Linked DNA regions of Homo sapiens. The protein of the gene in region 2 purifies or fractionates together with the protein of the main gene of each other region. This does not show direct contact. Each region holds a gene or a part of one and is shown on either strand. Other genes may lie near its edges.

Evidence for each region.
Region 1: the proteins of POLN (region 2) and BRIP1 purify together in Homo sapiens (affinity purification with western blotting; one study listed by BioGRID). This does not show direct contact.

The regions. Positions count from the first base shown.
Region 1 is NC_000017.11:61,860,677-61,865,027, reverse strand, and holds the start of BRIP1 (Fanconi anemia group J protein), read left to right. Parts: upstream 1-1,499; 5' UTR 1,500-1,744; exon of another isoform or gene 1,745-3,118; intron 3,119-3,458; 5' UTR 3,459-3,488; coding exon 3,489-3,581; intron 3,582-4,351. UniProt on the Homo sapiens protein: DNA-dependent ATPase and 5'-3' DNA helicase required for the maintenance of chromosomal stability. Acts late in the Fanconi anemia pathway, after FANCD2 ubiquitination.
Region 2 is NC_000004.12:2,239,322-2,243,921, forward strand, and holds the start of POLN (DNA polymerase nu), read right to left. Parts: upstream 2,801-4,600; 5' UTR 2,730-2,800; intron 2,470-2,729; 5' UTR 2,199-2,469; intron 1,773-2,198; exon of another isoform or gene 1,626-1,772; coding exon of another isoform or gene 717-1,625; intron 1-716. Other genes in the region: HAUS3 (HAUS augmin-like complex subunit 3), read right to left, coding at 717-1,625. UniProt on the Homo sapiens protein: DNA polymerase with very low fidelity that catalyzes considerable misincorporation by inserting dTTP opposite a G template, and dGTP opposite a T template. Is the least accurate of the DNA polymerase A family (i.e. POLG, POLN and POLQ).

The DNA.
Region 1 (4,351 bases), on a different chromosome or scaffold from region 2:
CCGAGTAGCTGGGACTACAGGCGCCCGCCACCACGCCCGGCTAATTTTTTGTATTTTTAGTAGAGACGGGGTTTCACCGTGTTAGCCAGGATGGTCTTGGTCTCCTGACCTGGTGATCCGCCTGCCTCGGCCTCCCAAAGTGCTGGGATTACAGGCGTGAGCCACTGCGCCCGGCCAAGAGTTGATGTTTTAAAAATTATAAAAGAGAAATGACAATTTGAAGGTATTTTTAAGGATTTATTTTTAAACATTATCCTTCCTTTCATTGTCTTAACAGTAAATTACTTCATCTTTGCTCATTCATATGTATTTTCACATTACTGAATCCCTAACACCCAGTTTGGGGTTTGCTTTGCCTTTTTTCACTTAACCTTATATGGGATTTTTTCTTGCAAGTTTAATTTTTATAAGTTTATTGGCTTCATAATGTATTGAATTCATCTGTCATAACCACCTCCATATTACTAGACTGGGAAGTTCATAATTTTTTTCAGTATTACCAATAGATATTATTGTCAATTGCGGTATCACATTTTCTTTCGTTTAGATTACGTCTTTAGGATAAATATCTGGAGCTCAGATTACTAGGTCAAAGGGTAGAGTTTATTTTTATGACTACAAGTTTTGTCATTTTTGGTAAGATATATCACAATTGACAATGAGGCAAACAAATCAACTAGCCCCCTCCTGCTCTTTCTTCCCAGCAAACTCCTTCCCCAAACTAGTTACTTGAATTTGAGAAACAGTATGAGGTTTTGCCTTTTGGAGACATTATTATTTGAGCCAAGTTTAGGTTATACAGATTTTTTAAAAAAATAACATGATTTGGCAAGATCATGATGAACCTCCTTTTCTTTGAGTAAATTAAAGTACTACTGGCAAATAATAAACTGGTCTTAGGAGGGATGGAAGGCGGATAAGCCTTAATGGAAGTAGAAGTGATCTGATACTGGAGACCCTGAGAGCTTGTCTCTGGCTTATTTTAGCATCCGGGAAAGCCTTGAATATTATGAAAGATAGATTGTAGCCCGATGTCACAGAGCCTTCTTACTTAAGTTTGGCTCAGCAGTCTGGCAATTCCCGCCTGAGTCTTCGCTATCCTGGCTACTGCAAAGCTGGGTAATTTAAATTGAGTGGCACTGATAAATGCTCAAAGAACTTGGCAAAGCTTAAAGATACTTCCTTTCCGCTGGTCTACGGACGTGAAGAATGAGACTTCCAGTTTCCAAGGAATTTGCTGCATAGACTCTATCGCCGGTTTCAAAAGTCAAACTGAGACGACTTTCTACTTTAAACAAACACTAGGGATTTGCTGGAGTGGCGACAACCTTCCGCCGCGTACCTTGAGCCCTTGTTTTTTTTTTTTTTTTTCGGAGACTTCCATTGGATGCCGAAGTTCTCGCCCCCTCACCTCGCACCGGGACTGGTTGATTCCTGGCCTTGGCGGGTGATTGGTCGAGCTCGCTGGGCTATTGGGCGCTGGGAGTCGAGGGGGCGGGAGGCGGGAATTCGTCTCGGGTTGTGTGGTTGAGGGGTCTGGTGGGTCGAGGAAAGGTAACGGCGGCCCCAGTCCTGCACACAAGGCCGGGGAAGTAGCAGCACCCCCAGGAAGAGGGAGGAGGAAGGGCTCGTGCCCTTTCTTCTCTTCCAGGGCTCCGCTTTATTTGCTCTCAGAAGTCGGTTTCCTTTCCTTTTCTTCAGTGAATCGGAGCTCAGAGCGTTGCTTCGGTTTCCCTCCAGACAGGCAAGTCGGAGGGAAGTCCACGGAAAGGGCTTGAGTTCTTCTGCACAGCCTGCGGGCCCATGGGTGGTGACTGGATCACCAGGGTCTCGGGGATCTCAACTGGCTGGGGGAGGAGGGAGATACGGGGCAGAAAACCTGAGGAGGGAGCCTATCCTTACCTCCTTTGAGCGCAGGCCTGTTCTTAGCCCGGGCGCTGCGTTAATTCTTGGCGGGAGGCAGAGGGGTGTGTTTATCCTTTATGCAATGTTTGGGGGAAGCTACCCCATTTTGACACTATTGTTGCCACAGCCGGGGTACAGGACGGGCTGATTTCTAGATTATATCTGAGTAACTAGGCCAGCGTTGAGTTGTTGATTCATATTAAGAGGTTAGATTCCACCATACCTCATTCTCAGAGCTTTACAGATAGAATCGCAAAATGTTAGAGCTGGAAAATACCCTAGAATAATGGTTCTTCTTTTGGAGCACACAAGCAGTGGTGAATGTTATTATTGGCTTCATAATCTATTGAATTGCTATTTTAACCATCTCTTCGTCCCCAGGTTGAATTTACAATTTTTTCCCACGACTGCAAATAATTCCTTATTTAATAACAGTGCATGTAATTTCCCCCGCTATTTTGATTTCCTTGAGATATATTTACGGGAAGAGAAATCTATGGACTTTTTCTTCAGAAAAATGCAATCATGTACAGAAACTTATGCTTGCAATTTCAAGAGGTCATTGTCTCTGAATTACATCCGTGGATCCTAGGTTAAGAAAAGTGGTTTAGAAGAGGTGAGGATTAAAGTGATCCTCATCTGTATCAGATCCTGGGTTAGGTACATTCTGCCCTGGCTAATTTTCATAAAAACCCTGTCAGGTAAGTAGTAGTATTTCAATTCCATATATGGAGAAACAAGCTCTGAGAAGTTAAGTGATTCACACAGTGGAATTCAAACTTAGGATTGCCTTACTCCAAAGCCCATCCTGTTTCTATAATACTCTACTGATCTTCAAATAACATTTTTGAGTGCCTACTATGTGCCAAGGCATTCTCTTTCTTATAACAGCCTTTAAATTAAATTAGGGGTTATCACAGGTAAGGATCTTAGACTAGAGAAGTAAAAAGATATGTCAAAGATAACATACCTGAGTCAAAGATAACATACCAGGCAGTATACCAAAACCTGGTATAGAACCTATGCTTCCTGACTTCTGGTCAACAGCTTTTTTCTTCTAACTGGAGGACTGCAGAAAGGGGTAACACAAAGGGGAAGAACTGGAGAAAGAGTGATGCTACGGAGTTGTAGAGAGAGAGGCCTCAGGAACTTATTTGTTTCTGTAGGTTGATTACATCTGATCTAACTGTTACAAGAGCTCATGTTTAATCTGGTATGTACTTTATCATATTTGCACATTATTTCACTTAATCATTACCACAATCCTATGGGGTACATGCAGTCACTGTGGCTTAGAGAAGGTAACTAACTTTCCCGAAGTCACACAACTAATACCTGGCAGAGTGAAGGATACAAATCTAGATTTGTTAGACTCTAAGACATGCTCTTGACCGCTGTGATTTATAAGACTAGGAAATTATTTTGTTTCCATTTGTTTTGTTTATACTTTTATTAATTCCAGTTTCTGTTTCCAGATTTCTCCCTTAGTTTTGGTTCTCTGGTTTTCTTTGTAAGGCGTGTCTCAATATTTGACATTTTCATTTCTGTTGTAGTTAGGAATCTGAAATAAACAGGAAAGCACTATGTCTTCAATGTGGTCTGAATATACAATTGGTGGGGTGAAGATTTACTTTCCTTATAAAGCTTACCCGTCACAGCTTGCTATGATGAATTCTGTAAGTATTTTTCAGCAGTTAAGTTTTTATTAAGATATAGATACTTATGACCCATAAAGTACATTGAGTATTTGACTGCATTCATATTCTCAGTAAATGGAGAATATTTTCTGGGTTCACTTGGAAGAATATCTAACCTCTGGGAAACTACTGATTGCAGCTAAACTGTATATATCTGTGGTTAAGGCAAAGAAGAACATTCTGAAAAATGTTCTCAGCTCATTTGGAATTTCTATACTTTTAATGAAAAACTGCTATACTTTTAAGTAAAAACAGAGTATTTACTATCTTTTACACAGAATACTATTTTTCTCACCATTGTTTTGTTTGGATCATGTAGAAAATTAATATACAAATTTGAGTAAACCAGCTTTCCAGTTTTGTTACAGCTATTTTGCCATATGTACTTCATATCTTATTTACTGGTAACAAGATTATTAGTATCCTGAATTTGTTCTTTTCCTTTCCTAGCCATGTTTTTATACTTTTATTACATATATATGTATCCATAAACAATATAGAATATTATTTTACATATTTGAAACTGTGCATTGATGTGATACGGTACCTTACTTTTTATGCAGAACTTGAGTTTTTTAACTTAGCATTATTTTTAATGTATAGCCCTGTTGATTCTTAATCCATTTTAATTGTTGTATAAATTCCATTGGATGAATATACCAGAATTTATCTGTCCATTTTCTTATTGGTAGACATTTAGGTTGTTTACATTCTTTTGCAGTTACAAACAATGCTGCTGTGAACTTCCT
Region 2 (4,600 bases):
AATAGGACACTATTCACTGAATCCAAGTATATGTTACTAGTTTTTCTTAAGTTAAAATTACTTCAATAGGTCCTAGTTGGCCAGTTGATTTTAGCACTTCTACGTAATTATTGGATTTCCTATATCATTCAAATGTTTTGTCAGCTATAGAAACTAACTTGGTGCTGATATTCTGATTCAGAAAAGTTACATTTTTACTCAAGTATCTAGCAGTTATATTACCAAGAAAACAAGCTCTCCAAGAGTGCAGACAGACATCTGCAATACATCTATCCATATATTCTCAAAAAGAAATCAGTTTCAGTCTACTGAACCTGGACCTCTGACTTCATTAGCACTATGCTCTGGTTGGAGCAAACGAGGCAGAATACCCATAATAAAGCAATTAGTTTCTAGCCACATCTTAAAAAGAAAATCTCAGTCCAGTCTGTATCTGCATTACACAAATTTAAAATTCGGAATGCAAATTAAAGCACTTTTGTTTAAAATAAATTAGATAATGTGGTAGAGATTATAATTACTATTGCTGCCCTCCATTAACGTATGGAACTATTTGTATGAAACATTGACACAGATCACAAATAAGCACTGAACAAAGAAAATAAAATGTAATCTCTTCTCAGATGCACCATTCTAAAGTACTTTAACAGCAATATTATCTCCTCTATTCCTAACAATAATTACAATGTGAATCCAATCTCATTTCTTATGCTTACCTTGCTGGTTAGGCTGTGAAGACTCTCCTCTGCCCATTTTATACTTGACTTCATGCTCGAATTACTTGCTTTTAAGTGAATTAACTGATGTTGAGCACAAATGTATGCGAGCTGCAGTCTAGCCATCTCTAGTCGTCTCTCCTCAAGGATTTCTTGATTATCACAAATAGATGGTGTCTGTATATCTAAAAGTTGAAAATTGTCTTCATTTGAACTTTCAACTACTTCATGTATACCCTGAAAGAACTGTTTTTTGGTATACAAAGTTAATGCTGCTGTGCTTTGCTCTTCCTGACTTAGGTATTTTTCCAAGGAAAATTGCGATAAAAATACCAGTGGATTTGTCCCTTGACCTAAATTAGAATGTCTGAAGAACATCATCAATTGTGTAACTTCATCAGTAAGAGCCTGAAGTTCATTACTGATCTTAGTGATCATTGCATTTAGAATTCCTTGACTCTGCTTCAGCTTTTTAGTGGCTTCTTCTTCTTTAGCATTTAACCTCAGAGATTTGTGGCTAGTTACTGAAGCCATCAATTGACATTTATTACGTCGCTGAATTTTTAGGTTCTTTAATTTCAGTAGAGTTTGAACCTCATCCTCTAATTTCTCCAGCTCTTTATCATCCAGTCTAGGTGTCTTCAAATCAGAAGTTTTACACGTTTTAAGAGCTTCATCCAATGCCGCCCCTTCTAGAATAGGCTTGCCTGATTTCTGAAGAATGCTAAAAGCTTCCAATTCTCTTTCAGACAACACGTTCTGTTCATTCACATTCCCACAAAACCACTTCAGAAACGATTCATCTTCAACGCCCTCAAACAACCAGTCAAAGTCTTCTCCATTAAGATTATCAGCTTTGGGATAACCAATTTTTTTTAATGTTTCCACAAACTCATTTCCACAACTCATGGTTTTAACTACCCCAATTTTGTTGTATCTGATATGGGTTTACGGTGTTGATTTTTAGAAAATAAATCCAAGCAGAAAAAAAGCTACGTTTTATACCAAGTCCACAGAGAAGGGAAAATATATTTTTAGAATCTATAATGATTCCTCCTAGGGGGGAAGAAAACAAGTATTAGACCACAAATATGACGACAGTGTTTTTAAAAAGAAGACACAGACAAATATCACATGATATCCGAGAGCGGGATAAATGACAGGTAGTCGTAGCTGCAATGTTTGATGATGATAAAGAGAAACAGAAACAATTAGGCTAGTTCTCAGAAAACCGCAACAGTAACGAAAAGTAATTAACAAGAAAGTGGATCTATTTGGATCCATTTTATCTTTTTTTCCAAAGATAAAATGGTTTAAAATGCATTACACTTTATAGAGCAGCATTTGTTTTTAATTCAAAATAAATGGATCCAAACAAACCCAAGCCACCAGGAGGCTAGGCAGCCTCTCTTCCCTGCCCTCCGTACGTAAGAAGACGCAAATAAGCATGGCACATCTTCTGAAGATCAACTAAATATTTACCTCAACGTCTCGCCGGGCAAGGCTCCACCTCCAGAGTCCACCACCGCGACGCGGAGAACAGCAGGAGCAGCAGGGAAGCGCGCGGCCACAATTAAGGGTGCTTCGGGCCGGCCTTCAGCCAGCGCTGAGGCAGCCCCGACGCCAGGGCCGCGCGAACCCCAGAGGCAGCGGCAAGCCCCAGGGATCCGCGGCCCCAAGGCCGCGATACACCAGACGCGCCAGCGGCAAAACCTTCCTTCGGAGGGTCACCCAGCTGTGACACCTAAGCACGCTGACAAAACAAACGCACAAGCCCACCGAATCGCCGTCGACACCGAGCTGCAGAAGACGGGGGTGACAGGCCCCGCACAGCCCCCGCCCCAGCTCCTCGCCCAGCGGACCGGGCCCTGATCCCCGGGCAGCTGCTGGAGCACCTGGAAGGAGCCCCCAGGAGCGCAGGAAAAAAAAGAGGCACCTGGGTGCAGACGGGGATCGCGGCCACTCCTCCAGCCCCACACCCCTGCGCCCAGAACCGAGGCCCGCGTCAGTCACCTCAGGAAGTTCCGCTTGCTTCTCGCAGGAGCCCGCCGCCACCGCCCTCCGTGCCCCGCGCGCCTCGCACTGCCTCACGGGAGCGCCTGGACGCGCGCAAGCGCACAAGGCGACGGCGTGGTCGTGGGGGATGACTGTTTGCGCAGGCGTAGTGTCAAAAGAGGCGGAGTCGGCGAGGCTGGACTATGGGGTGGAGCTGAGCAGGCGGCGCTCGGCCCCCGGCCGCTGCGGGCATCCTGCCTCCTGGGCGGGGCGCAGGGCAGAGAGAGGCGGGGTCTGGGCCGGGAAGGGCGGGGACAGGGCCTGGACAGGGGCGGGGCCTGGGCAGGGGGCGGAGCCTGGGCAATGAATGGGGTGCAGAGGGGTGCAGAGGGGTGCGGTGGGGCGCCCTCTGGGGAGCTGAAGCTGCGGGCCTGCTCTCAACGGAGCCGTCAGTTGTGCTTCAGGCCTGCCCTGCCCCGTACTTCAATCTAGACCCTCTGAAGGCACTTTTGAATGGTACAAAGAGCAGCGCAGGTTGGTGGTTGGGAGACAGGCTGGAGCCCGGCGGTGATAGCGCTCGCCCCCGAGAGAGACGAGTTCCCGGAACATTCACAGCAGCCCGACCAATGCCTGGTACATTTTAAGGGTTAGGGATTGTTCGCTTAGAGTCTTTTACAATGAACTTTATTTTGCAAAAACACTTAATTTCTAATCCCTCACCAGAACACTATGTAAAAGCTGACTTCTGGCCGGGCGCGGTGGCTCATGCCTGTAATCCCAGCACTTTGGGAGGCCGGGGGGGGGGGGGGGGGGGATCATGAGGTCAGGAGTTCGAGACCAGCCTGGCCAAGATGGTGAAACCCCATCTCTACTAAAAAATACAAAAATTAGCCGGGCGCGGTGGTGGGCGCCTGTAATCCCAGCGACTCGGGAGGCTGAGGCAGGAGAATCGTTTGAACCCAGGAGGTGGAGGTTGCAGTGAGCCGAGATCACGCCACTGCACTCTAGCCTGGGCGACAGAGCAAGACTCCGTCTCAAAAAAAAAAAAAAAAAAAAAGCTGACTTCCTCCACAATTCCCTTTTCAAAATGTTAGAAATAAACGGAATGGCCTGAGTTAAATACATCGATATATTTAACTCAAGGAGGATGGTACACCATTTCCAAAGAGGATGGCAGTCAGTGAAAGATGACTGAAACGGGATTGCTAAATTTCATGTGAATCTGGCTGATGCCCTACAGCCCAGTGAAACCAGACCTCTCTATTGGACAGAATTCGTTTGCATCTCTACCAAACAAAAATCCTTTGCCACTCCTCAGTCTTCCACAGGTTAGCAGGGGCTTTGGTCATGGGTAAATATAATAGTACTCCCTCCCTTCAGCGTCAAATGACCCTAAAGGTGGCTTGTTAGACAATGTCCTAGTCCAGGGTGACTAGGTAGAAGTCGTTTGGATAGTTTTTCTTAATATTTTTAAGGAGAGAAATAAGAATGTTCTAAGGCAAATATTGTAATCTGATCGAGTCAAAGATATTTCCTATTCATTCTTCACTTGTTTCACGTTTTTTTCCTCCTCTTTTAAAAGTCAATAAGGCCTAAAATGATCTGAAAAACAAACATGATGGGAAAAAATTCAAAGAGTGGTGCCCAATCTGCAGGCAAGGAAACCAGGGATGCTGGAACGGGGAGGCCTGGTGGGAGGACCCTTGCAGCCCAGGGTTGGAGGTTGGGGGTGTGCATCAGGGGGCAGAGTTGAGCCAGTTTGGACAGGAGGAAGTGGGAGCTGTGCAGGCAATGCCTTCCAGAAATGTTGCTGATGAGGCAAAGACTGGGTGGGAGGAGTGTGACACAGAGAGAGAGATACAGAGAGACAGAGAGAGACAGAAACAGAG